Linked DNA regions of Homo sapiens: all the other regions are linked to region 2. The links come from fine-mapping of genetic effects on gene expression. A gene starts in region 2. Each other region holds a variant in brackets. All regions are shown on one strand. Distances are between the middles of the regions. Region 1 overlaps SLC5A10 (solute carrier family 5 member 10). Region 2 holds the start of SHMT1 (serine hydroxymethyltransferase 1). Region 3 overlaps TOP3A (DNA topoisomerase III alpha).

Region 1 (8,000 bases), 650 kb after region 2:
GGGGTGTGAGACCCGCCCTTCCCCATGGGCTGGGCATCTAAGAAGGGACGTATCAGAAGGGGGCTTTGGAGGGGGCAGTCTACAGAGGGAGCACCAAGTCACAGAAGTGTCAATGCCAGCCGCCCCTGCTGCTGCTGTGTTGCAACTCTGCCTGCCCCTAACCAGCCACTGCAGTGCTGTCAGTCAGCTTGTTTCTGAACTCCCCCGTAATCATCATCTTCTGGTTAGCTCTGCACTCTGGGCCCTCCTGAAAACCCCAGAAGCAGGGGCCAAAGCTTTCTAGAAAGTCTTTTATGGGAGGAAAAAGAGAATGTGGGTCAACTCTCTTCATCCCTACGTATCACTAGGCCAAAGTCAGCCCCACGACTGCTAACACCAGCAAATCTCACTGAGCAGAGCAGTGAGGAGAGCCCCACACCTCAGGGCTATGGAGGTAGGCCGGGGTTCTGCCCCCACACAGGGCAGGAGGCCGAGGGATGCCTGGATTTAGGGTTCAGTCGGGATCTGGCCTGAGCCTGGGAAATTCGTGAGTCCTTTCATTCAACAGATGAGCCGTGTGTACCACCCCAGCCATGGGGGAGATAGCACGAGGCAAACCCCGTCCTCTCAGGACTCACCTGCCACAGGGAAGTGGCAAGAACCAAATAAACATGTCCAAGTCCTCCCAGGGATGACAAGGGATGAGGGAAAGCGATGTGGGGCAAGGGGACAGACGGAGAATGGGGTGGGAAGGACAGACCGGAATTCGGGAAGGAGGCAGTCCTCAGGCGAGGCCTGGGGCAGGCCTCAGGTGGGAGCGAGGAGGGACTTGTGGGGAGGGGCCAAGGGTCTGGATCACCCAGGGTCTTGTAGACTGTTGAGAGGCTGAGTGGCTGGAGAGTCCTGGGCATCAGCTCAGCTCTCTGCAGCAGGAAATAGCCTGGCGTAAAGCTTGGACCCCAGGGTTGGAGACAGGGGTGTGGATGGGCTCTGACCCCACGTCCTAAGCCAGGAAGTTGGAGCAGGCAGGCCTCGCCAGCCCCTGAGCTTTCACCACAGCCCTGCTGCATGAGCTGCAGCTGTGTGACAGCACACTCAAGCCGGCTGCCCATGGACAGACGCGACTTGTTGACTTGTCGCTGAGTGAACACAAAGCCCAGGGAACAGGTTGAGGGCCTGGGGCAGGGCCCATCCTGCAGGCCTCTCTCTTCTCTAGCCTCCATTTCCCCCTTTGGGGAGAATGGCTGGGGACGAGGGGGGCAAGGGAGGCTCAGGCCCCAGGTAGACTCTAATGGCGGACCTCACACAGCAGAGCCAACGGCAGGTGAGCCCCCTGGCCAAGAAGTAGGATCAGGAAGAAGAGTTATGATGGAGAACAGCAGGGAAAAGGATTTTCAGAGGCCATGCCCTCCCTGTGGCTCAGATTGTGAAACTGAGGCCCAAGGCCAAATGGTAACAGGTCAGAGGCATTGATGGAGCAGGTCTGGGCCAGGCTCCTGCCCCCAGCCCTATCTTGCCCACCCCAGGTGCTCATGTCTATGAGGAGAGACACCAAGTGTCCGTCTCTCGAACAGATGATGTGGGCTGCGTGGTGCCGTCCGAGTGCCTGCGGGCCTGCGGGGCCGAGGTCGGCTGCTCCAACATCGCCTACCCCAAGCTGGTCATGGAACTGATGCCCATCGGTGAGGCTGTGTGGGTGGGGGTCTGGGTGGAGGGCGTGGGGTTGGACTTGGGGCCCAATGAGTATGGGGACTGTGGAGGCTGCCACTCACTGGCCAAGAAATTTGGGGCATGTCACTTCCCTGCTTGGAGCCTGGGTGTCCTCATTTGTAAATTGGAGATAATGGCATCTACCCACCCCTCAGCGTTGTTGCTGGGATTAAACATAATGACACAGGGAAAATGCTGGGTGCAGGCTTGGCCATGCTGTAGTTCCCACCTTGGGCCTTCGCTTTTCTCTTCTGTTCTGGGCAAGGGGACTCGCTAAGCCCTCCAGGGCTGACACCGAGCCATTGTTGGGCCACAGTCCCTCTCTAGGTCTTGAGTTCCCTCTCTAAGAAATGGATGGAATAAGCTCCAAGTTCATCCATCTCCATGAGCAAGACAAGGGAGTGGGTGGAGAAATGTTTTGGGGAAAACTGTGATTTGACTCACTTTCCTTTGGGCTCCATCCCAACCAGCTTCTGACAAGTGAACAGAGAGCCCAGAGACACCTGGAAGTCACACAGCCAATCAGACACAGAACCGAGGCCAGACAACCCAGCCAGGCAATAAATGGCTGTGCCTTCCGGGCAGGGGGGCCTATGTCAGGCTTATCCTAGGACAGACGGGCAAGAGTTTGTAGAGGTAAAGGAGGTGCTTAAAATTGCAGGAGTTCTTGTAGACAGACTTGAACTCATCCCCAGAGAGGGGAGGCGACCAGCCTGAAGCCACACAGCACAGAGTGGGCAGTTGAGCATCCTTCCACCTTCCTTAGGGCTCCTCACCCTCAGGCCCTCTTGAGCCCACAACTCCCAGAAGGCCTTTCACAGCAATGCTACCCGCACCTCCTAGGGGAGCCCTCACTCCCACTCTGGAAAACCACAGAGCCAAGGAGAGAGGGGATCCACTATGCCTGCTGGGTCCTGCCATGCACAGGAAGTGGCGGAAAATTCCAGAGACTGGGGCACTGCATGCTGGGGTGAGGTGTGCATCTTGCCCAGGGTGTGGCCTTCAAGCAGAGGCCCCGCCCAAGCCTTCCTCACCAACCCCACCGCACCCCAAAGTCCTGCCGCTGGCCTGCTGTGAATCCCTGGGCAATCTCTTCACTTCTCTGAGCTTCCATTTCCTCATCTGTCAAGCGGGTTAATCATGCTTTCCTCGGACGAAGGCATGGGTGTGAAAGTGCTTTGTCAACGCCAGGCTCTGCAGAAAGGACAGGCCTGATCGCAGCCTCAGCATTATGAGTAATTATGGTCGGGCCTAGGGTTGCCAGCAAGCCTAGGGCTCAAGCAGCCAGCTCCGAAGTCCCCACGGTTTGTCCTTGGCCTCCCCAGTCTCCTCATTCTGGGTCTTGCTCACCTCAAACCTCCTCAGCTTCTCTCCCTCCCCGCCCTCTGCCTTGGAGGAGCATGCAAATGGCGGGCGGGCCTCAGGCATTAGAGCCCAGGCGGGAGGGGTTCCCGGGGCTGTCTCAAGGCCGGACAGGGTCACACATCCCCCGTCCCACCCCAGGTCTGCGGGGGCTGATGATCGCAGTGATGCTGGC[G/C]GCGCTCATGTCGTCGCTGACCTCCATCTTCAACAGCAGCAGCACCCTCTTCACTATGGACATCTGGAGGCGGCTGCGTCCCCGCTCCGGCGAGCGGGAGCTCCTGCTGGTGGGACGGTACGGGGGTGGGGGCCAGTACGGGGGTGGGGGAACACTACAAGGGTGGGCGCCCGCACTGACTTTGAGGGATGAGCCGGAGTTTGCCACTTAGAGAAAGGTGGATGCCAGGAAGGAGGGAAGAGAAGGGCCAGTGTACCCCATCCATACCACCTCTCACATTGCTCTCCTGTCCACCTCTGTGTGATCACAGCCCTCATCTGGGATGCATCTCCACCCTTGAGCTGGATTCCTTCTGCAGGGGCCAGCCCTCCCTCCCCAACCATGCCACAGATCTCTCTATCTCCCCGAAAACCTGGGCCCCCATTCCTCCTGATGGTTCCCAGCTGCGCCACAGAGGGCCCCCGGGCCAGCACTCAGGACTGGCCACACTTGGGCTGCCACGTCCCTCAGCCTCCATGGCCCTGGCCCTACTGAGCTCCAGCTTGTTTCCTCCCAGCCCAGCTTGTCCCCTCCTTTTTCACCTCGATGACTCATGCTGATCTTTCTGGACTCTGCCTGTGTCCCCTCCTCCGTGCAGTCCTCCCTGAGACCCTCAACCAAGGAATGAGCCTCTCTCCCCTTCATACCCCAGGGACGCTTGCCAGATTCTTCCCACAGCACATGTGGCCATTACAGGCCAAGAGACCTCCCCGACACCCTTCTCCAAATATCTGGGCGCTTCATGAGGACCGGGGCTGTGTCTGGAGAACAGGTGGTGTTTGGTTACATGAATAAGTTCTTTAGTGGCGATTTCTCAGATTTTGGTGTATCCATCACCCGAGTGGTATACACTGTACCCAATGTGTAGTCTTTTATCCCTCACACCCTCCCAGCGTTTCCCCTGAGTCCTCAAAGTCCATTGTATCATTCTTTTTTTTTTTTTTGAGACAGTCTCGTTTTGTCACCCAGGCTGGAGTGCAGTGGTATGATCTTGGCTCCCTGCGACCTCCACCTCCCGGGTTCAAGAGATTCTCGTGTCTCAGCCTCTTGAGTAGCTGGGATTGCAGGAGCGCACCACCACGCCTGGCTACTTTTTGTATTTTTAGTAGAGACAGGGTCTCACCATGTTGGCCAGGCTGGTCTCGAACTCCTGACCTCAGGTTATTCATCCACCTCAGCGGGCTGGGATTACAGGTATGAGCCAGTGTGCCCAGCCCATCCTATCACTCTTATGCCTTTACATCCTCAGAGGTTAGCTCCCATGTGCACGTGTCTATTTGCGCCCTCCCTGGCCCTCCAGTCCCACCCTCTTGTTGTCCTCTGAGCAGTGTGGCTCACACTCTGCTGCTCGGGGGTCCAGCCTTCTGGCACAACAGAGCACCCCCTGGCCAGGAGCCCAGGGCACCCATCCTGGGGGTGGGGTCTCCTCCAGAGCTCCAGGCAGCTGTCCCAGGGATGCAAAATAGTCAGGCTTCTGTTGGAAGGGCCCTGTTGGGACACGCCAGAGGCGGGTGCGAGTGAGCTCATCCACGGGCTCACAGGATTCTCCAAAACAAGGAGCCTCCCACCTCTCACTGGGCAGGACACTTCCATGTCCCTGTGTCCTGGGCACTTGGCCCCTTGACCACTTCTCCCCCTCTGGCTCCCCTGCCTCTCCTCAGAAGCTGTGTGGCCTGGGGAAGACCCTGCCCCTCTCTGACCATGTGTCTCCTCTGAGGCCAGACCTTGCTCTAAGCCCCTCCATGCTCCAGCATCCTGGGCCCTGGGAACTGGATGCCCTCCTGCCACCCAGTGTGTGACACTGGTAGCCCCTGTACCTGCCCAGTGGCCCTCATGTCCCCTGCCCACTACTTCCTGGCCTCCTCACCCAGACTCCCACCTGCAACCAAAAGTCTTGACCTGGCCTCCTGCTGCGCCAGCTCACCCAGCTGCCCGTGCCCTTGACCCTCCTTCCCACCTCTTCTGCCAAGTCAACCCCCGCCCCTAGCCCTGCAAGCCTGGCAGTCGGCCTCCCTGAGGAGCAAGGCACAAGGCTGCGTGGTGCAGGGCAGGTTGCTCACCCTCTCTGGGCCCCAGTTCTCTCAGCTGCCAGCTGGATAGAGCAGAAAGGGCCCCGTGCCAGGTGTCAGGCTGGCCAGCTCAACTTCCCGTCCCTCTTACAGCACTGGGATACCCTCAACACCCCCAGCCCCTCAAAGCCGTCTCAGCTTCCTCCTGCCCGAAACACCACCATTGGAGCGGTATCTCCTAGGCCTCGTGGTCATGGATCTCTGGTAGGGTGAATGGCCTGACAACAGTCTCTGTCAGGGAGAGGCGAGGCTTACAGAGAGAAGACCAACAGCCCAGAGGCCTGGAGAGGAGGCCATCGCAGGGCCGGGTGCAGTACCATGCCGGTGACCCTGATGGCTCTGTCCAGCTGAGCAGAGGCTGGAGGAGCCGTCACAGGCTGGGGGAGAGCGATGACCCGCCCCCACTCCCGTATGCCTGCCCCAAGCCCCCACACCTCAGTCCACTGTTCCGCCACTGCCCCCCTGCCCCACTCTCCCCTGTCTGTGTTCCCGGCTGTTCAGTCCGTAAATGGGGCCCACAGCCTCCTGGAAACCCTGTGCAGGACTCGGAGAGATCTCAGACACCCCTCCTTGAGATGTTCCACAGTAACTGTGGCTGCAGCCCAGGGAGATGCTGGAGGGCACTATCCACCCTGATGGTGGCATGGGAGGGAGTGGCATTCCAGGCAGAAGGAGCAGCCTCTGGGTTTGGGGGTCCTCTGGCAGCCAGGTAAGAAGGCTGGGTAAGAAAGCGAGGGCCTGGCTGGAGTGGCCCCAGCCCTGGCACAGAGATGCAGAGTCTGGTGTTGGGCGGGAGAGCTGTGTGCAGAGGGCGGGGTGGGCAGGCGTTAATGGAGGCCCGCCTGGGCCTTTGATGAGGGCAGCGCCCGCCTGCCTGCCTGGCTAGGGGTTAATTAGCCTTAATCAAGGTGGCACCTCCTTCCTCCACCCTCTCCCTCAGGCCTAGAAGGGAAGAAAGGGAGGGAGGAAGGCGGACAGGCGCTGAGAGGACCCACCCTAGCTGAACACATAGCCTCTGTCACCCCTGCCACCACAGCCAGGGTTCCAGCGGGTCACCCACCACCCACCTTGGGGGTGAGGAATGCCAACTGACCCAGGACACAGGGGTGAGGTGCTCAGCCAGGGAGGAGCGGATGGATGCCATGCCCCAGCTTCATCCCCTTAGCTGGGTCCCATGCCCCTCAAGGCTCGGGGAGGGGGTGCCTCCTCCTGAAAGCCCTCCTAGATTGATGTTTCCTCTGAGCTGCTCCAGCCCAGTCCGAGTGTAGGTAAGAGGCTCATCTGTTTTCTTTGCTGGACTCTGAGTGCTGGGCAGGCACCAGGTCCCACTCATCGCCGAGTTGGGGATCCTAGGGTAGTGTCCTACGCAGGTGAGCACCTCACCAGTGGTTTGTTGGATGAACAAGTGTAGCATGTGCCTGTTGTAGAGGGGCTCTTGGCCTAAGGGAGAGGCAGGCAGGAGCTGACACGCAGGGGACAGGAGGGGACGGGCTCATGCTGGCCCAGCAGGGCTCCGGCTTCACAGCTGGGGAGTATGGGCTCTAACCCCAACCCACACCTCTGGCTCCAAACTTTGCATCCTTAGTAAGCAGGTTGCCCTGTGAAGGATGTGCAGCACAGGGCTGTCGGGGTGGGGATGTGCCAGCCAGAGGTCCCAGCTCCCACAAATGCCGGCCAGTGTGAAAAATCCTAGTGTCTTCAAATAACCACCAGGAAGTCAGTCTGGCCCAGATCGGGGGGCAGTGGTCATTCATGCACTCACCAAATGCTTAGTAAGCACCTACTATATGCTGGGAGACACAGCAATGAACTAAAGAGATGAGGCTCCTGCTCTCCTGGTGCTTCCATTGGGAGGGGAAGACAGGCAGTAAACAAGTAGACACCCAGGTAAATGTGCATGTAGTGACTGGGACAGGTGCTTTGAAGGAGAGACAAGAGGGAGCTCCATGGCGGAGCTCCAAGGGCTGGCTCCGCAGAGACCCCAGGGCAGGGAAGGAGCAGACAGCACTTAGAGTCAGGAGCTGCACCTGCAGGATCCAGGGAGCCACCAAAGGGTTTGGAGCAGGGCAGGACTGGCCAGGTCACTGGTGGTGTGGACCAGAGTCCAGGGAGGAGGCTGGAGCTGGGGTAGCAGGGGAAAGATTAGAGAGCAAGTCTTAGTGACCAGGGGAGGTGGGAGAGAGCTGAAGAGCCTCCCACGACGACCGCTGCCTGCCTTCCACTCGCCTGCAGGCTGGTCATAGTGGCACTCATCGGCGTGAGTGTGGCCTGGATCCCCGTCCTGCAGGACTCCAACAGCGGGCAACTCTTCATCTACATGCAGTCAGTGACCAGCTCCCTGGCCCCACCAGTGACTGCAGTCTTTGTCCTGGGCGTCTTCTGGCGACGTGCCAACGAGCAGGTGGGCGTCGGCGGTCTGCTCTCCCTGGGGACGTGCCACAATTTGCTCTTCCCTGCTGCCTGTGGGGGGAGCCTTGGTCCTCCTCCCGTAGCCCCACATGCCCTGCCTCCCTCCTCCCCAGGGGGCCTTCTGGGGCCTGATAGCAGGGCTGGTGGTGGGGGCCACGAGGCTGGTCCTGGAATTCCTGAACCCAGCCCCACCGTGCGGAGAGCCAGACACGCGGCCAGCCGTCCTGGGGAGCATCCACTACCTGCACTTCGCTGTC
Region 2 (8,139 bases):
CTCCAGGCTGGCAACAGAGCGAGACTCTGTCTCAAAGAAAAGTAAAATATCTTAGCCCAGGGCTGCACAGAAAGTTAGCCACAGAGGCAGGACTCGAAACCCCAAAGCACATGCTCTAAGTAATCCACAGAGTTCCTGTGAAGCTGTTAGTTAAAATATGTACTTGGGCTGGGTGTGGTGGTTCATGCCTGTAATTCCAGCACTTTGGGAGGCTGAGGCAGGAGGATCACTTGAGCCCAGGAGTTCAAGACTGGCCTGGGCAACATGGCAAAGCCCCATTTCTACAAAAAATACAAATTATTAGCTGGTCGTGGTGGCATGCATCTGTAGTCCCAGCTATTCAGGAGGCTGAGGTGGGAGGATCACCTGAGCCTGGAAGCTAGAGGTTGCAATGAGCCGTGATTGTGGCAGTGCATTCCAGCCTGGGTGACAGAGTAAGACCCTGTGTGTGTGTGTTTTTTTCTTTTAAATAAAAAAAGGACTTGTTTGAATATAAATCTTCCTAAAGAATTACAGGTTGGGCTGGGCCCAGTGGCTCATGCCTGTAATCCCAGCACTTTGGGAGGCCAAGGCGTGCGGATCATGAGGTCATAAGTTCGAGACCAGCCTGGCCAACATGACTAAAAATACAAAAATTACCCAGGTGTGGTGGCAGGCACCTGTAACCCCAGCTACTTGGGAGGCTGAGGCAGGAGAATCGCTTGAACCCGGGAGGCGGAAGTTGTAGTGAGCCGAGATCACACCACTGCACTCTAGCCTGGGTGACAAAGCAAGACTCTGTCTCCAGGGGAAAAAAAAAAAAGGGCCTGGTATGGTGGCTTATGCCTGTAATCCCAGCACTTAGGGGAGTCAAGGCAGGAGGATCCTTTGAGCCTAGGAGTTCAACCACAGCCTAGGCAACACAGTGAAACCACGTCTCTACAAAAATTTAGAAATTAGGCTGGGCAAGGTGGCTCACATCTGTAATCCCAGCACTTTGGAAGGCTGAGGTGGGCAGATCAACTTGAGGCCAGGAGTTTGAGACCAGCCTGGCTAACATGGTGAAACCCTGTCTATAGCAAAAATATAAAAAATTAATTGGGTGTGGTGGCACACACCTGAGGCATGAGACTTACTTGAGCCTCAGAGGTGGAGGCTGCAGTGAGCCGAGATTGTGCCACTGCACTCCAGTCTGGGTGACAGAGTGAGACTGTGTCTCAATAAAAAAAAAAAGGCCAGGTGCAGTGGTTCACGCCTGTAATCCCAGCACTTTGGGAGGCCAAGGCGGGCAGACCACAAGGTCAGGAAATCAAGACTGTCCTGGCCAACATGGTGAAACCCCATCTCCACTAAAAATACTAAAATTAGCTGGGTGTGGTGGCGCCCGCCTGTAATTCCAGCTACTCAGGAGGCTGAGGCAGAAGAATGGCTTGAACCCAGGAGGCGGAGACTGTAGTGAGCAGAGATCACACCACTGCACCGCAGCCTGGCAACAAAGCAAGACTCTATCTTAAAAAAAAAAAAAAATTATTTGGCCAGGCACAGTGGCTCACACCTGTAACCCCAGCACTTTGGGAGGCCAAGGCGGGCGGATCACCTGAGGTCAGGAGTTCGAGACCAGCCTGGCCAACACAGCGAAACCCCGTCTCTACTAAAAAATACAAAAATTAGATGGGCATAGTGGTGGGCCCCTGTAATACCAGCTATGCGGGAGGCTGAGGTAGGAAAATCGCTTGAACCCAGGAGGTGGAGGTTGCAGTGAGCCGAGATCATACCATTGCACTCCAGCCTGGGTGACAGAGCAAGACTCCATCACAAAAAAAACCAAAAAGAAATACACAAGGCCAGGCATGGTTGCTTACACTTGTAATCCCAGAACTCTGAGAGGCTGAGACGAGAAGATCACTTGAGCCCAGGCGTTCAAGACCAGCCTAGGCAACATGGCAAAACCCTGTCTCTAAAAAAAAATACAAAAAATTACCCGAGCCTGGTGGCGCACGCCTGTATTCTCAGCTACTCTGGGTGGCTGAGGCAGGATGATCACTTGAGTCCCGGAGGTTGAGGCTGCAGTGAGCCCAGATTTTCCCACAGCACTCCAGCCTGGCCAAGAGAACAAGACCCTGTCTCAAAAAAAAAAAAAAGAAAAGAAAAGAAAGAAAGATGCAATAAATGGGTGCAAGGCTACTTTAGACTGGGTCAGGGAACGTCCCGGAGCTGAAATCTGAGCTGTGGAAAGGAGCCAACCATGAAATCTGGGATGAGAGCAATCTACGCAGAGTAAACAAGTGCAGAGCACCCCAAGTTCAAAGGCCAGACAAAGGAGAAAGTGTGACTGGCCAAGGGTCAGAAATCAGGCTTGCACACCTGAAGTCTGGGGAGTCACAGGACCACAAGAGTCAAGACCACCCTGGGCAACATAGGGAGACCCCGTCTCTCTAAAGAAAGAAAAAAAAGCGGTCAGGCGCGGTGGCTGACGCCTGTAATCCCAGCACTTTGGGAGGCCGAGGTGGGTGGATCACTTGAGGTCAGGAGTTTGAGACCAGCCTGGCCAATATGGTGAAACCCCATCTCTACTAAAAATACAAAAATTAGCTGGGCGCAGTGGCTCAATTCCTGTAATCCAAGCACTTTGGGAGGCCAAGGCGGGTGCATCACCCCAGGTCAGGAGTTCGAGACCAGCCTGACCAACACGGTAAAACTCCATCTCTACTAAAAATACAAAAATGAGCTGGGTGTGTGGTGCGCACCTGTAACCCCAGCTACTCAGGAGGCTGAGGCAAGATAATCGCTTGAACCCAGGAGGTTGCAGTGAGCTGAGATCGTGCCACCGCACTCCAGCCTGGACAACAGAGCAAGACTCTGTCTCAAAAAAAAAAAAAAAAACAAAAACAAAAATTAGCCAGGCATGGTGGCATATGCCTGTAATCCCAGCTACTCAGCAGGCTGAGACCAGGAGAATAGCTTGAACCAGTGAGGTAGAGATTGCAGTGGACCGAGATCATGCCACTGCACTCCAGCCTGGGTGACAGAGCTAGACTCCGTTTCAAAAAAAAAAACAAAAAAGAAAAAAGGGGGCTGGGTGCAGTGGCTCACATCTGTAATCCCAGCACTTTGGGAGGCCGAGGCGGGCAGATCACGAGGTCAGGAGATCGAGACCATCCTGGCTAACATGGTGAAACCCCGTCTCTACAAAAATAAAAAAAAATTAGCTGGGCGTGGTGGCGGCGCCTGTAGTCCCAGCTACTCAGGAGGCTGAGGCAGGAGAATGGCGTGAACCCGGGAGGCGGAGCTTGCAGTGAGCCGAGATCGCGCCACTGCTCTCCGGCCTGGGCAACAGAGTGAGACTCCGTCTCAAAAAAAAAAAAAAAGAAAATTGGGAATCTTAGGGACATCTTCATTAACATTCAGTAATACCTGGTAAGTCCCCCAGCCAACACAGCTCACTGCAACATCAGTCATTACAACATTGGATATTTCTGTAGAGGCACTGTTGCTCATGTGTGGCATGATCCTCAACGTCAGGGAAAAAGACCTAGTAAGTGAAGTCACCTGCAAGGTCACCAGCCTCCCCATGCCTCCAAATCTTACCTGGGCCTCTGTCACATAAGAGGATCCAGCCAAGGATCTGCTCAGGGAACTAACTTGTTGCACATCTTCTATCTCACACACATTTTGTGTTCTCTTCTTTACAGAAGAGGAAATTGAGGCCCAGGGAGCTAACTTGTCTAAAGCCATATAAGAGCCAGAATCTGAACAATGGTTTCTCTTCAGTTCCAAGGCCTTGTCCCAGGACATTGCACTAAATAAAAACACAATTACCCACTTCCGTTCCAAGTTCCCCCAAGTAATAAATTTACGTTATTTCTTTTCTTTTTTTTCTTTTCTTTCTCTCTCTTTCTTTCTTTTGAGATAGAGTCTCACTCTGTCACTCAGGCTGGAGTGCAGTGGCGTGATCTCCGCTCACTGCAACCTCCACCTCCCGGGTTCAAGCGATTCTCCTGCCTCAGCCTTCCGAGTAGCTGGGATTATAGGTGTGTGCCACCATGGGCAGCCAGGTTTTTTTGTATTTTTAGTACAGACGGGGTTTCACCATGTTGGCCAGGCTGGTCTCCAACTACTAACCTCAAGTGATCCGCCCACCTCGGCCTCCCAAAATGCTGGGATTACAGGCATGAGCCACCGCGCCCGGCCTACAATGTTATTTCTGCAAGAACCTAAACTGGTGTTTCCAGTCTATTCTCTGGGTAACTGCCCGATTGAAGGCCCGCATCTGTGCTGACCTCAGCTGGACCAAGGGTCACTTAACTCCCGGAATCTCGAAGCCAAGGCACCGGGCCAAGAACTTCACAGTGCAACATTTGTCTCCTAGAACAGGGGGTGGCAGATTGCGGGCAACAGGAAGAGCTCATTCCCCACAGGGATCTGGTGGCACGGGCCAAAAGTGGAGCGACCCTGCGCGCAGCCTTTAGGGGCGCAGGCTTTGAGAACCCGGGTTCTATTCCGGGCTCTGCCATTTAAGTTGCCTCCTTTCTCAGGGCCCCACCACCTTCCTCACCTGTAAAATGGGGGAAACAGTAGCACTTGACTTGCAGCTTTGTTGTGAAGGAGCTAGGATTGTTTAAATCGAAAATGCTCAACGAGAAAAGTGTTCAGTGGAGAGCTACTACTCACATCCCCGATAAGCCTTCGCATTCTTGCCAAAGGCCACGGGCCGCCACCCCATCATACCGAATGTGCCTGGAACTGGGGCGCTGCGGCTGGCCGCCGCCCGATCCCCAGCCCAGGCGCGACCCAAGCGCTCCCCTCCCGTCATTGCGGCTGCAGAGGGTGGGGTACGGCGGGGGACAGCGAGGACGCCGAAGCACCCCCCGGGCTCTGGGACGCCGCGGCCCTCGGACCCGAAGCCGCCCACCTACCGGAACACGGCCCGCGCACGTACCTAGCGACGCCTCCGTCCTACGCCGCCGCCGGTGCCACCAGTCCCAGACCCGCTGACCCAACGCCCCGCGCACCGCCGCGGGCCAGCCACGTGACCAGCCGCTCCAACCCCAAACCCCGAACTTGGCGCTGGACCGCTCGAGCTCAGGAAGGTGCACTCTGCGCGCCAGGCTTGGGCTTGGCCCCGCCCCCGGAGGCGCCCAATCAGAGAGCGCAGCCAAGCATGGGCCGCCACCAAACGCACCCGCGCTATTGGCTGCGGCGCAGCGGCGGGCAGGGCCTGTTTCTCCGGGGCGGGCCGGAGGCCGCGTAGTGCAGCTGCGCACCTGGGGCAGGGACCTGCAGAACTGACCCGCTTTGGCTGCAGGGCTGGTGTGTGGACCAAGATTTCCAGGAAGACTACACAGGGCCTTCCTCACTTAAGCCTGTCGCTTGGGCCGTGGGATTATGAGTGAATTTTGTTCATGGTACTACTTTTAGTTTGCAGGGTGGTCATTTAAAGTAGGACAAATGTGCGTCCAAACTGCAACATTATTACTCTGTAGGTGTATAATCCAAGAGCAGACACTTTATTATTATTATTTTTGTTATTTTTTATTTTTATTTTTTTGAGACAGGGTCTCACTCTGTCCCCCAGGTTGAAGTAGAGATGGGGGTCTAACTATGTTGCCTCCCAGGAGGCGGAGGTTGCAGTGAGTCGAGATCGCGCCACTGCACTCCAGCCTGGGGGACGGAGCGAGACAACGTCTCAAGAAGAATAAAATAAGATAAATAAAATACTGACACACAATAAGGACTCAATGAACATTACCTATTGTTAAGAATGATAAAAACCGGGGCCACATGTCAGGACCACCTGAGGCTGCGTCATAAATTTTTTTATTTGTCAAATGATAACAATAATTATTATAAGAATGATAAAAACCGGGCGCAGTGGCTCACCCCTGTAATTCCAGCACTTTGGGAGGCCGAGGCAGATGGCTTGAGCCTAGGAGTTCAAGACCAGCCTGGGCAAAATGGTGAAACCTTGTCTCTACAAATAATTTTAAAATTAGCTGGGTGTGGTGGCAGTCGCCTGTAGTCCCAGCTACTTGGGGGGCTGAATGGGAGGATCACTTGAGCCTGGGAGGCAGAGGTTGCAGTAAGCAATGATCTTGCCTCTGTACTCCAGCCTGGGCAACAGAGTGAGACCCTCATCATCTCGAAAAACAAACAAACAAAAAATACAAAAAAAACTTTTTTTTTTTTTTGAGACAGAGTCTTGCTCTGTCGCCCAGGCTGGAGTGCAGTGGCGCGATCTCGGCTCACTGCAAGCTCCACCTCCCGGGTTCACGTCATTCTCCTGCTTCAGCCTCCTGAGTAGCTGGGACTACAGGCCTCCGCCACCACGCCTGGCTAATTTTTTTTTATTTTTGAGACGGAGTCTCCCTCTCTTGCCCAGGCTGGAGTGCTGTGGCGCGATCTAGGCCCACTGCGAGCTCTGCCTCCTGGGTTCATGCCATTCTCCTGCCTCAGCCTCCCGAGTAGCTGGGACTACAGGAGCCCACCACCACGCCTGGCTAATTTTTTGTATTTTCAGTAGAGACAGGGTTTCACCATGTTAGCCAGGATGGTCTTGATCTCCTGACCTTGTGATCCACCTGCCTCAGCCTGCCAAAGTGCTAGGATTACAGGCGTGAGCCACCACACCCGGCTAATTTTTGTATGTTTAGTAGAGATAGGGTTTCACCATATTGGCTAGGCTGGTCTTGAACTCCTGATCTCAAGTGATCCATCCTCCTCGGCCTCCCAAAGTGCTGGGATAACAGGCAAGAGCCACTGCGCCTGGCCAACATAGTGAGTGTTTTTGTTTTTTGTTTTTGTTTTATTTATTTATTTATTTGAGATGGAGTCTCGCTCTGTCACCCAGGCTGGAGTGCAGTGATGCGATCTTGGCTCCCTGCAACCTCTGCCTCTCTGGTTCAAGCAATTCTCCTGCATCGGCTTCCCGAGTAGCTGGGACTACAGGCGTGCACCACCATGCCCAGCTAATTGTTCTTTTTGTTTGTTTGTTTGAGACGGAGTCTCGCTCTGTCGCCCAGGCATGAGTGCAGTGGCTCGATCTTCGCTCACTGCAATCTCCACCTCCCAGGTTCACGCCGTTCTCCTGCCTCAGCCTCCCGAGTAGCTGGGACTACAGGCGCCCGCCACCATGTCCGGCTAATTTTTTATATTTTTAGTAGAGACAGGGTTTCACTGTGTTAGCCAGGATGGTCTTGATCTCCTGACCTCTGATCCGCCTGCCTCGGCCTCCCAAAGTGCTGGGATTACAGGCATGAGCCACCGCGCCCGGCCGTGCACAGCTAATTTTTGTATTTTTCTCACAGACAGGGATTCGCCATGTCAGCCAGGCTGGTCTCGAACTCCTGACCTCACGTGATTCACCTGCCTCGGCTTCCCAAAGTGCTGGGATTACAGGCACAAGCCACCGCGCCCGGCCTGTTGTTTGTTTTTTTGAGACGGAGCCTCTCTCTGTTGCCCAGGCTGAGGTGCAATAGTGTGATCTCGGCTCACTGCAGCTTCCGCCTCCCGGGTTCAAGCAGTTCTCCCACCTCAGCCTCCCAAGTAGCTGCGACTACAGGCGTGCGCCACTACGCCCTGCTAATTTTTGTATTTTTAGTAGAGACGAGGTTTCACTATGTTGGTCAGGCTGGTCTCGAACTCTTGACCTCAGATGATCTGCTCGCTTCAGCCTCCCAAAGTGGTGGGATTACAGGCATAAGCCACTGTGCCCAACCCGTGAGTTTTTTAATATCCAAAGTAAGATTTCTGGGTCAAGCTTTTAGTAAATATTGCCATATTGCTTTCTACAAGCATTGTAACAATTCACACTCCCAGCAACAATTTAGGGAAATACCCATTTCCCATTTCTTCTCCAGCACTGAATGCTTCATTTTTTATTTTTTTATTTTTTTTAGATAGAGTCTCTGTTGCCCAGGCTGGAGTGCAGTGGCGTGATCTTGGCTCACTGCAATCTCTGCTTCCTGGGTTCAAGTGATTCTCCTTCTTCAGCCTCTCGAGTAGCTGGGGTTACGGGCATGCACCATGACACCTGGCTTTTTTTTTTTTTTTTTTTTTTTTTTTGTATTTTTAGTAGAGACGGGGTTTTGCCATGTTGGCCAGGCTGGTCTCAAACTCCTGACCTCAAGTGATCCACCTGCCTCAGCTTCCCAAACTGCTGGG
Region 3 (8,342 bases), 74 kb before region 2:
TGCTCTTCCTGAGGTAGGGGTGGGACTCAAAGTCCCAACCTTCTAATCACAGGGTTGGTTCCCTGACAACCAGACCGATCCCAAGGCTACCCAGGAGCCCTTGGCCACTAGTCATCTCATTTGTATACAACAGACACAGCACTTAAAAAATTCCAAGGGTATCAGAAAATGAAGTCCAAATATATATATCTTATTATAAATCATAATATCACAGGTAGAAAACACATCATTTCTAACAAAATACACACATGCTGCTTGCTAAATATCCACCTCTAAATGCTCCAGAAAACAAATGGATCACACTCCAGCACTTGGGTTTACTGATTTAAAAGACTTTGTTGCCTAACTCAAGATAATTAATGTGTCATGTAATTAAAGCAGAAAAAAAAAAGATAATTAAAATCAAGAGAATGGTATTTCTAAAGCCAATAGTTCAGAATAACTGAAGGAGACTGTTCCGATTACTGTTTCTATACTGACAAAGCTCTATGGAGAGTTGTAAAAGAACCCAGAGAAGAAAGTCCAAAGAAAAGGGGTATGTGGAAAACCTCCAGGCCAGGAGGCCACTGGTGAGGATGAATCTGGCAGGGTTATAAACTCTGACTGGCCCAGATGCGGTGGCTCACGCCTGTAATCCCCACACTTTGGGAGGCTGAGGTGGGAAGATCTCTTGAGGCCAGGAGTTCAAGACCAGCCTGGGCAACATAGTGAGACCCCTCTGTATTTCTTTTAAGGACTTACTTCTTTGCTTTAGCCACCGCTTCAATGAAAACCTGCTTGTATTTCTGCACTTGCTGCCTTAGAACCACAAATTTGTCCTTTTTGCCATCACAGATCAGCTTCAGATCAGCTTCCAGTTCAGCCCGGAGGTCAGGCTTAGACATTTCATAGCCCATGGAATCATAACCTGCAGGGAGAGAGTCGAGCTCAGTGAGGGCCCACCTGAGACCCTCAGGGACTTGGGCGACACCACCCACTACCCACTGCAAGCTCTGTCCTCCCTTACCTTCCACAAGTCCCATGCCCAGGTGCCCAGGGAGGAACCGCTTGTCTGGGGTGAGGCCCACGTACATCCGGGCTTTGATGGTCTCGATGTGCTCCGCATGAGTGGCATCCGTACCTGGAAGCCACTTGCTGGTTACTCTGAGGTAATACAGACAACAGCTCCACCCGGGTGGCGCATGGGCACCTTGCTCACCCCGGAATCCCTCCTTTGCCTGGACAGCCTATGCAGGTAAGATGCCTTCATTTCATTCCCATATAGCTCATTCAAGAAATCACAATGGCAACCTCAACTCTCTTGTTCCCTCACATCCCATTACTCAGGAAAGCTGTCAATTCCAGCTTCAAAGCTCTTTTTAAAAATTCTCTTCCCCATGTGTCCAAGCCATACTTGCAGCTTGTGTCCCTATTTCTAGTCTCTTCCTCTACCCTAACCATTCTTTAAGCTGTGGCCAAAGGGACCTTTCAAAATGTAGCTCTGCCATGAAGGAAATGCAAATTAAAACTGCAGTGAAGGCTGGGAGCAGTGGCTTATGCCTGTAATCCCAGCATTTTGGGAGGCCAAGGTGGGCAGATCATCTGAGGTCAGGAGTTCGAGACCAGCCTGGCCAACATGCTGAAACCCTGTCTCTATCAAAAATACAAAAATTAGCAGGGTGTGGCGGCACGCACCTGTAGTCCCAGCTGCTCAGGAGGCTGAGGCAGGAGAATCACTTGAACCCAGGAGACAGAGGCTGCAACGAGCTGAGATGGCACCGTTGCACTCCAGCCTGGGTGATGGAGTGAGACTCTCTTTAAAAAAAAAAAGAAAAAAAAAAGGGCTGGGCGTGGTGGCTCACGCCTGTAATCCCAGCAATTTGGGAAGCCGAAGCGGGCAGATCACGAGGTCAGGAGATCAAGACCATCCTGGCTAACACGGTGAAACCCCGTCTCTACTAAAAATACAAAAAAAAAAAAAAAAAAATTAGCCGGGTGTGGTGGCGGGCACCTGTAGTCCCAGCTACTCAGGAGGCTGACACAGAAGAATGGCATGAACCTGGGAGGCGGAGCCTGCAGTGAGCGGAGATCGAGCCACTGCATTCCAGCCTGGGCAACAGAGCGAGACTCCACCTCAACAATAACAACAAAAAAACAACCAAAAAAACCAGTGAAATAGCAGTTCAGACCTACTGGCAAAATCAAAAAGAGAGATAATACTAAGTGTTAGTAAGGATGTGGATAAACTGGAATCCTAGTGCCTTGCTGGTGGAAATGAAAAACGGTACAGCCACTTCAGAAAAGTTTGGTGGTTCCTAAAAATGTTAAATGTAGAGTTACCAAGTAAACCAGCAATCCCACTCCTAAGTCTACCCAAGAGAAATGAAAACACATATCCACACAAAACCTTGTACAAAACTGTTCACAGCAGGATTATTTATAATAGCCAAAGAGTAGAAACAACTCAAGTGTCCATCAACTGCAACCTCTGCCTTCCGGGTTCAAGTGATTCTCTTGCCTCAGCCTCCCGAGTAGCTGGGATTACAGGCGCCTGCCACCAAGCCCAGCTAATTTTTTCATTTTTAGTAGAGAAAGTGTTTCACCATGTTGGTGAAGCTGGTCTCGAACTCCTGACCTCAAGTGATTGGCCCACCTTGGCCTCCCAAAGTGCTGGGATTACAGGTGTGAGCCACTGTGCCTGGCTCTTTATAGGAAATAACTAAAGTAGGCAAATCTGGCCAGGTGCAGTGGCTCACTCCTGTAATCCCAACACTTTGGGAGGTTGAGGTAGGAGGACAGTTTGAGGGTGCAAGTTCAAGACCAGACTAGGCAACATAGCAAGACCCTGTCCCTACATAAAACAAAAAAGTCTGGCTGGGCATGGTGGCTCAGGCCTATAATCCCAGCACTTTGGGAGACCGAGGCGGGTGGATCATTTGAGGTCAGGAATTCGAGACCAGCTTAGCTAACAGTGAAACCCCATCTCTACTAAAAATACAAAAATTAGCCAGTGATGCGCACCTGTAGTCCCAGCTACTCAGGAGGCTGAGGCAGGAGAATCTCTTGAACCTGGGAGGCGGAGGTTGCAGTGAGCTGAAATCGTGCCACTACACTCCAGCCTGGGTGACAGAGTAAGACTCTGTCTCAAACAAAACAAAACAAACAAACAAAAAACCCAACAAAAAAATTAGCTGGGTATGGCAACACATGCCTGTAGTCCCAGCTACTTGGGAAGCTGAGGTGGAAGGATCCCTTGAAACCCAGGGTTCATGGCTGTGACCTAGCCTGGGTGACAGAGTAAGATGCTATCTCTCCAAAACAAATTTTTTTAGGGGCCGGGCATGGTGGCTAACACCTGTAATCCTAACACTTTGGGAGGCCTAGGTGGGCGGATCATGAGGTCAGGAGTTTGAGACCAGCCAACCTGGCCAACATGGTGAAACCCTGTCTCTACTAAAAATAACAAAAATTAGCTGGGTGTGGTGGTGCGTGCCTGTAAGCCTAGCTACTCGGGAGGCTGAGACAGGAGAATCGCTTGAACCTGGGTGGCGGAAGTTGCAGTGAGCAGAGATTGTGCCACTCCACTCCAGCCTGCAGCAACAAGAGCAAAACTCCATCTCAAACAAACAACAAAAAAAACAAAAAAACTGACTGTGGTGATAGCTGCACAACTTTGTGAATATGCTAAAAAATGTACATTATACATTTGAAGGAGATAAACTGTATGGTATATAAATAAAGCTGTTAATAATTATATATATATATATATAAATTTTTTTTTTTTTTTTTTTTAGATGGAGTCTCTCTCTGTCACCAAGGCTGAAGTGCAGTGGCACAATCTTGGCTCACTGCAACCTCCACCTCCCGGGTTCAAGCAATTCTCCTGCCTCAGCCTCCTAAGTAGCTGGGATTACAGGCGTCAGCCATAACACCTAGCAATTTTTTGTATTTTTAGTAGAGATGGAGTTTCACCATGTTGTCCAGGCTGGTCTTGAACTCCTGACCCCCTACCTTGGTCTCCCAAAGTGCTGGGATTATAGGTGTGAGACACAATGCCCAGCCTGTTAATAATCTTTTAAAAATATTATTATTATTTTTTTGTAAGTGTACCTCTATGTGGTTCCTTTACTTAGAAATCCTGGAAGACTCCCTGCTGACCATGTACCACCATCTAAGCCCTTCAACTGGGCAAGCCAAGGCCCTGCAAAGTCAGGCTTGGATCATCTTTCCAGGCTCACCTTCTATGGCCACCCCCCTCCAATCCAGCTACAGCAGGCTTCTGCTTTCCTGCTCCTGTGCCCTTCCTCAGGCCTACCCTGCACTGGGCTGCCCTTCGCTGATCCAGAAGTCTTACTATGAGGTTTTGGTCCAGCTCAAATGCCAGTCCACCCATCACATTTTCTTCCCTGCCTACTCCCTGCAGAACTATTACATTGTATTCAATGTGTTGGTTTGGTTCTTCTGTTAGATTGAGAACTTAAAAAATGAGGTCTTATTCCTCCTTGTGTCCCTGGTGCTTAGTCCAAGCTCTCACTCTTGTGGGCCTCACACTTTGTACCTCAGTCTCTGCCTTCCGGGCTCAAGTGATCCTCCCACCTCAGCCTCCCTACCTATAGGCATGCACCTAATTTTTTGTAGAAATGTTTTTTTTGAGATGGAGTCTCACTCTGTCACCCAGGCTGGAGTGCAGTGCTGCGATCCTGGCTCACTGCATCCTCCACCTCCCGGGTTCATGCAATTCTCCTGCCTCAGCCTCCCAAGTAGCTGGGATTACAGGCATGTGCCACCACGCCTAGCTAATTTTTGTATTTTTTTAGTAGTGATGGGGTTTTGCCATGTTGGCCAGGCTGGTCTCGAACTCCTGACCTTAGGTGATCCACCCGCCTTGGCCTCCCAAAGTACTAAGATTACAGGCATGAGTCACCGTGCCCAGCCAGATCTGTTTTGTTGTTGTTGTTGTTGTTTGTTTGTTTGTTTTAAGACAGAGTTTTGCTGTTGTTGCCCAGGCTGGAGTACAATGGCACAATCTCAGCTACAGGTGCCCACCGCCATGCCTGGCTAATTTTTGTATTTTTAGTAGAGACAGAGTTTCACCATGTTGGTCAGGTTGGTGGTCTTAAACTCCCTACCTCAGGTGATCCACCCAGCTCAGCCTCCTGAAGTGTTGGGATTACAGGCGTGAGCCACTGCGCCCAGCAAGATGGGGTTTTAC[C/T]GTGTTGCCCAAGCTGGTCTTGAATTCCTGGGCTCAAGTGATTCACCCATCTTGGCCTCCCAAAATGCTGGGATTACAGGTGTGAGCCACCACACCCAGCCTTCATACATTTTTATCAAATAAATCATGACGGGTGAACCTCTACTAATTTTACCTAAACCTGCAGGGTTTCTGGATGTCCTAGTGATGGTCAAGGACTTCACGTTGAAGCACTGCTTCCCAAGTCATAGGCCTAAGAAACTCCCTTTGTGGATGACGCAGCTGCTTATGTAACACATGCCCAGGGAGCTCTGCTTCCCCTCCACTGTGCTGCAGGTATTCCTGGACTAGGTTTGCCAGAGAAAGCCCTTGAGAGCCTTGACAAAAACGAATGGAGGGGACAGCAGATTAGTTACAAGGCCCTACCTGCAAAGCTTGAGCCATGGGACTTATCAGCAGGGTCCTGGCACATACATGAGGCCAGCGTGAGCAGCCTGAGTGAGCAGTGTGGGTTCAGACCTGCAGAGACAGCTGCCACCCTCACCCAATGCTCCACATGGGAAGGAGGCTCAGGGCTCTATCTGACACTTCAAAATGAAGATAGATTTTATGATAACTGTCCCAAGTTTTAATTGTTGGTTCCTTACATGCTGTTCTTATTCGAAAGAACAACAAATCCTCATGTGGCCAATGGGTGCTCCCAGTTGGGCCCTCAAAGCCATGGGAAAAGTCTCTGTTACTATGTGGACAGCACAGTGCATGGTTTAAGAGCACTGACTGTGGAGTTATTCAGACCAGGTTTTAATAATACACACTTTGTGAACTTAGGTAAGTTCTTAACCTCTCTGAGCCTTATTTCAACTATAAAATGGGATAAAGATATAGCAGCTGCATTAGAGAATGGTTTGAAGACTAGAGGAAACCTGTACCTGGTACACTGTAAGCCTTAGCTCAAGAGATGCGAGTTACCCAGAGGAGCCACTGACCAATGCCATGCTTCTCCATGAGGGCAATGAGGTCGGCCTCGGTGAGCAGCTTGGGTGGGCTGGTCTCCCCGTCCACCATCTCCACGGTGCTGGGCTGAAAGTGGGATCCTTGCTCATAGACAGGGAGGATCTACAGGGAGCGGCAGGTGCAACAGTCAGATGATTCCATCAGCACACTCAGGCAAAAAATAACCTCATTTCAAGGAACATGATCCTGCTCCACTAGAGAACTCAGGGCTCACAACACAACTGTCCTCCCTCTCACTGGGGACCACTCTTTATTACCTTGTCACTCCAGTGATCATATGGATACACATCCAGATAGTTTCGGGCCAGAATCATGAGGCCATGGGCCACAAAGCGTTCCTGAGCGATGTCGATCTCCACTGTGGTCTCCTGCCCCTGAGCATCCTGGGAGCAGCAAGCCAGGAAATGGCGAACAATAAACTCGTACAGTCGCTGTTCATCTCCCTAGGAAGAAAAGAGGAGTACGAAACTCCCCCTAGAATATCACCTCTCAAGGACAGGAGCATCACTGGTAGCCTTAGCCTAATGTCCTGCACAGAAGAGGCCACACTGCTCCTCAGGCCCTGCACTAACATGGAGTGCCAGGCAAACAAGTCCTGGGGAGAGGATGGGTTTAGGTTGACACATCTCACAACTCAAATCTGGCAAAGATAAGCAAAGGAGTCATCTTCCCTTCCAGACTGGGAAGTGGTTCTTTGATGTAAACGCAATCTAAGCAGAAAACAAGATGAAAGCGTAAGAAGTTAGCAAGACACTCCTCAAATACAAGAGACAGCAACATTGCACCTGGTGGCCTTAGCCCAACTTCATGCACACATTTAAGCAGTAATTTTCAGGGTAATTTTCAATTAGGTAATCAATGATTTAGTGAGCCTCAGTCTATCAAAAGCCCATGAGACATTTATACACATATCCAATAATTCCCCTTCTAAGGATTTCTTCAAAGGAAATAACTGGAGAACCACAAAAATATTTATGTCTACAAATGTTAACTATAGTATCAAAAACACACAAAAAACAGATTTGGCAAAATAAATTATGGCACATCTTTGTAATTGTTAAATATCATGCTTAATAGGCAATTTTACCCCCTTATAAACTTTTGTATTTCTTAATTTGTCTAAAATGAACATGTAATTTTTTTTTTTCCGAGACAGAGTCTCACTCTGTCGCCAGGCTGGAGTGCAGTGGTGCAATCTCGGCTTATTGCAACCTCCGCCTCCTGGGTTCAAGCGATTCTCCTGCCTCAGCCTCCTGAGAGTTGGGACTACAGGCACATGCCACCCCGTCCAACTAATTTTTCTATTTCTAGTAGAGATGGGGTTTCACCATGTTGGCCAAGATGGTCTCAATTTCCTGACCTCGTGATCTACCCGCCTTGTCCTCCCACAGTGTTGGGATTACAAGCATAAGCCACCGCGTCCGGCCATATTTTTAAAATCAGAAAGAATGTATTTTATTAAAAGAAGGAGGAGAAGAACAAAAGACTAAGATTTCCCCAGCTTTGTGAGAAGCCTACAGATGTAAACAAGCATTTCCCCAACTTTGTGAGAAGCCTACAGATGTAAACAAGCCTAATGGCTCCTGTGCCTGCAGAGCCTGCCCCTGGCTGAGGAAATGACTGAGACAGACAAGCAGAGCTGTGTGGGAAACTGCAGTGACAGGGGGTGGCACGACTGGGGTGGCAGCAAAGTTTCAGGAGGCAACCAAAACTGAGCCAGCCTTGGGAGGATGGATAGAATTCTCTAGTTCCAGGGACTGGGAAGGCCACAAGGCTCACAGTGGAGGTGGGGGTCTGCACAGGGGTTGCCTATGAAGGACTAGCAGGGAAGCAGCAGGAGCTGATGGAGAGTGGGATGTGGAGCTGGATTAAGACGGGGGCCCACCACGGGGAGGGATGAGGCGGTCTTTATCAAAGCCAGGCAGAGGATTGTGAAATGAGAGAGATCTCAAAATCACTTGTTTTTACAATCACAGCCCACAGAGTAAATTCAAACCTTACTACTGACCCCCAGCACTTCCCTATGGGTTCCAGCAGGCAGTACATTCAGGGAAACCAACCTGTAAGTTGTTGGTGTATTTGGTGGGGTGAATGGGAGGGTGAGCTTGGTCAGACTTGTTCCCATTGCGTGGGGTGGGACCACCCCGCTCTAGAATGC

What was found. PIP is the estimated chance that this variant, and not a neighbour inherited with it, causes the effect. A credible set is the group of variants that fine-mapping cannot tell apart.
Region 1: its variant is the best candidate, but not a certain one, in a credible set for the expression of SHMT1 in prefrontal cortex (GTEx, PIP 0.65).
Region 3: its variant is the best candidate, but not a certain one, in a credible set for the expression of SHMT1 in whole blood (INTERVAL, PIP 0.50).

Annotation. Positions count from the first base shown.
Region 1 is chr17:19,011,857-19,019,856 of GRCh38, forward strand. It overlaps SLC5A10 (solute carrier family 5 member 10), which reads left to right. Exons shown (of 15, transcript NM_001042450.4): 10 at 1,554-1,661; 11 at 3,193-3,343; 12 at 7,567-7,735; 13 at 7,857-8,000. Among named protein-coding and RNA genes, the nearest start is that of FAM83G, 11 kb to the left of the region's middle. RefSeq lists an enhancer at 2,228-3,217. The variant G/C (reference allele first, on the strand shown) is at 3,227.
Region 2 is chr17:18,358,454-18,366,592 of GRCh38, forward strand. SHMT1 (serine hydroxymethyltransferase 1) reads right to left here and starts at 5,097. Exons shown (of 12, transcript NM_004169.5): 1 at 4,919-5,097. RefSeq lists a silencer at 4,722-5,191.
Region 3 is chr17:18,284,401-18,292,742 of GRCh38, forward strand. TOP3A (DNA topoisomerase III alpha) reads right to left here. Exons shown (of 19, transcript NM_004618.5): 11 at 8,245-8,342; 12 at 6,442-6,627; 13 at 6,157-6,286; 14 at 1,007-1,120; 15 at 742-907. Among named protein-coding and RNA genes, the nearest start is that of TOP3A, 26 kb to the right of the region's middle. The variant C/T (reference allele first, on the strand shown) is at 5,192.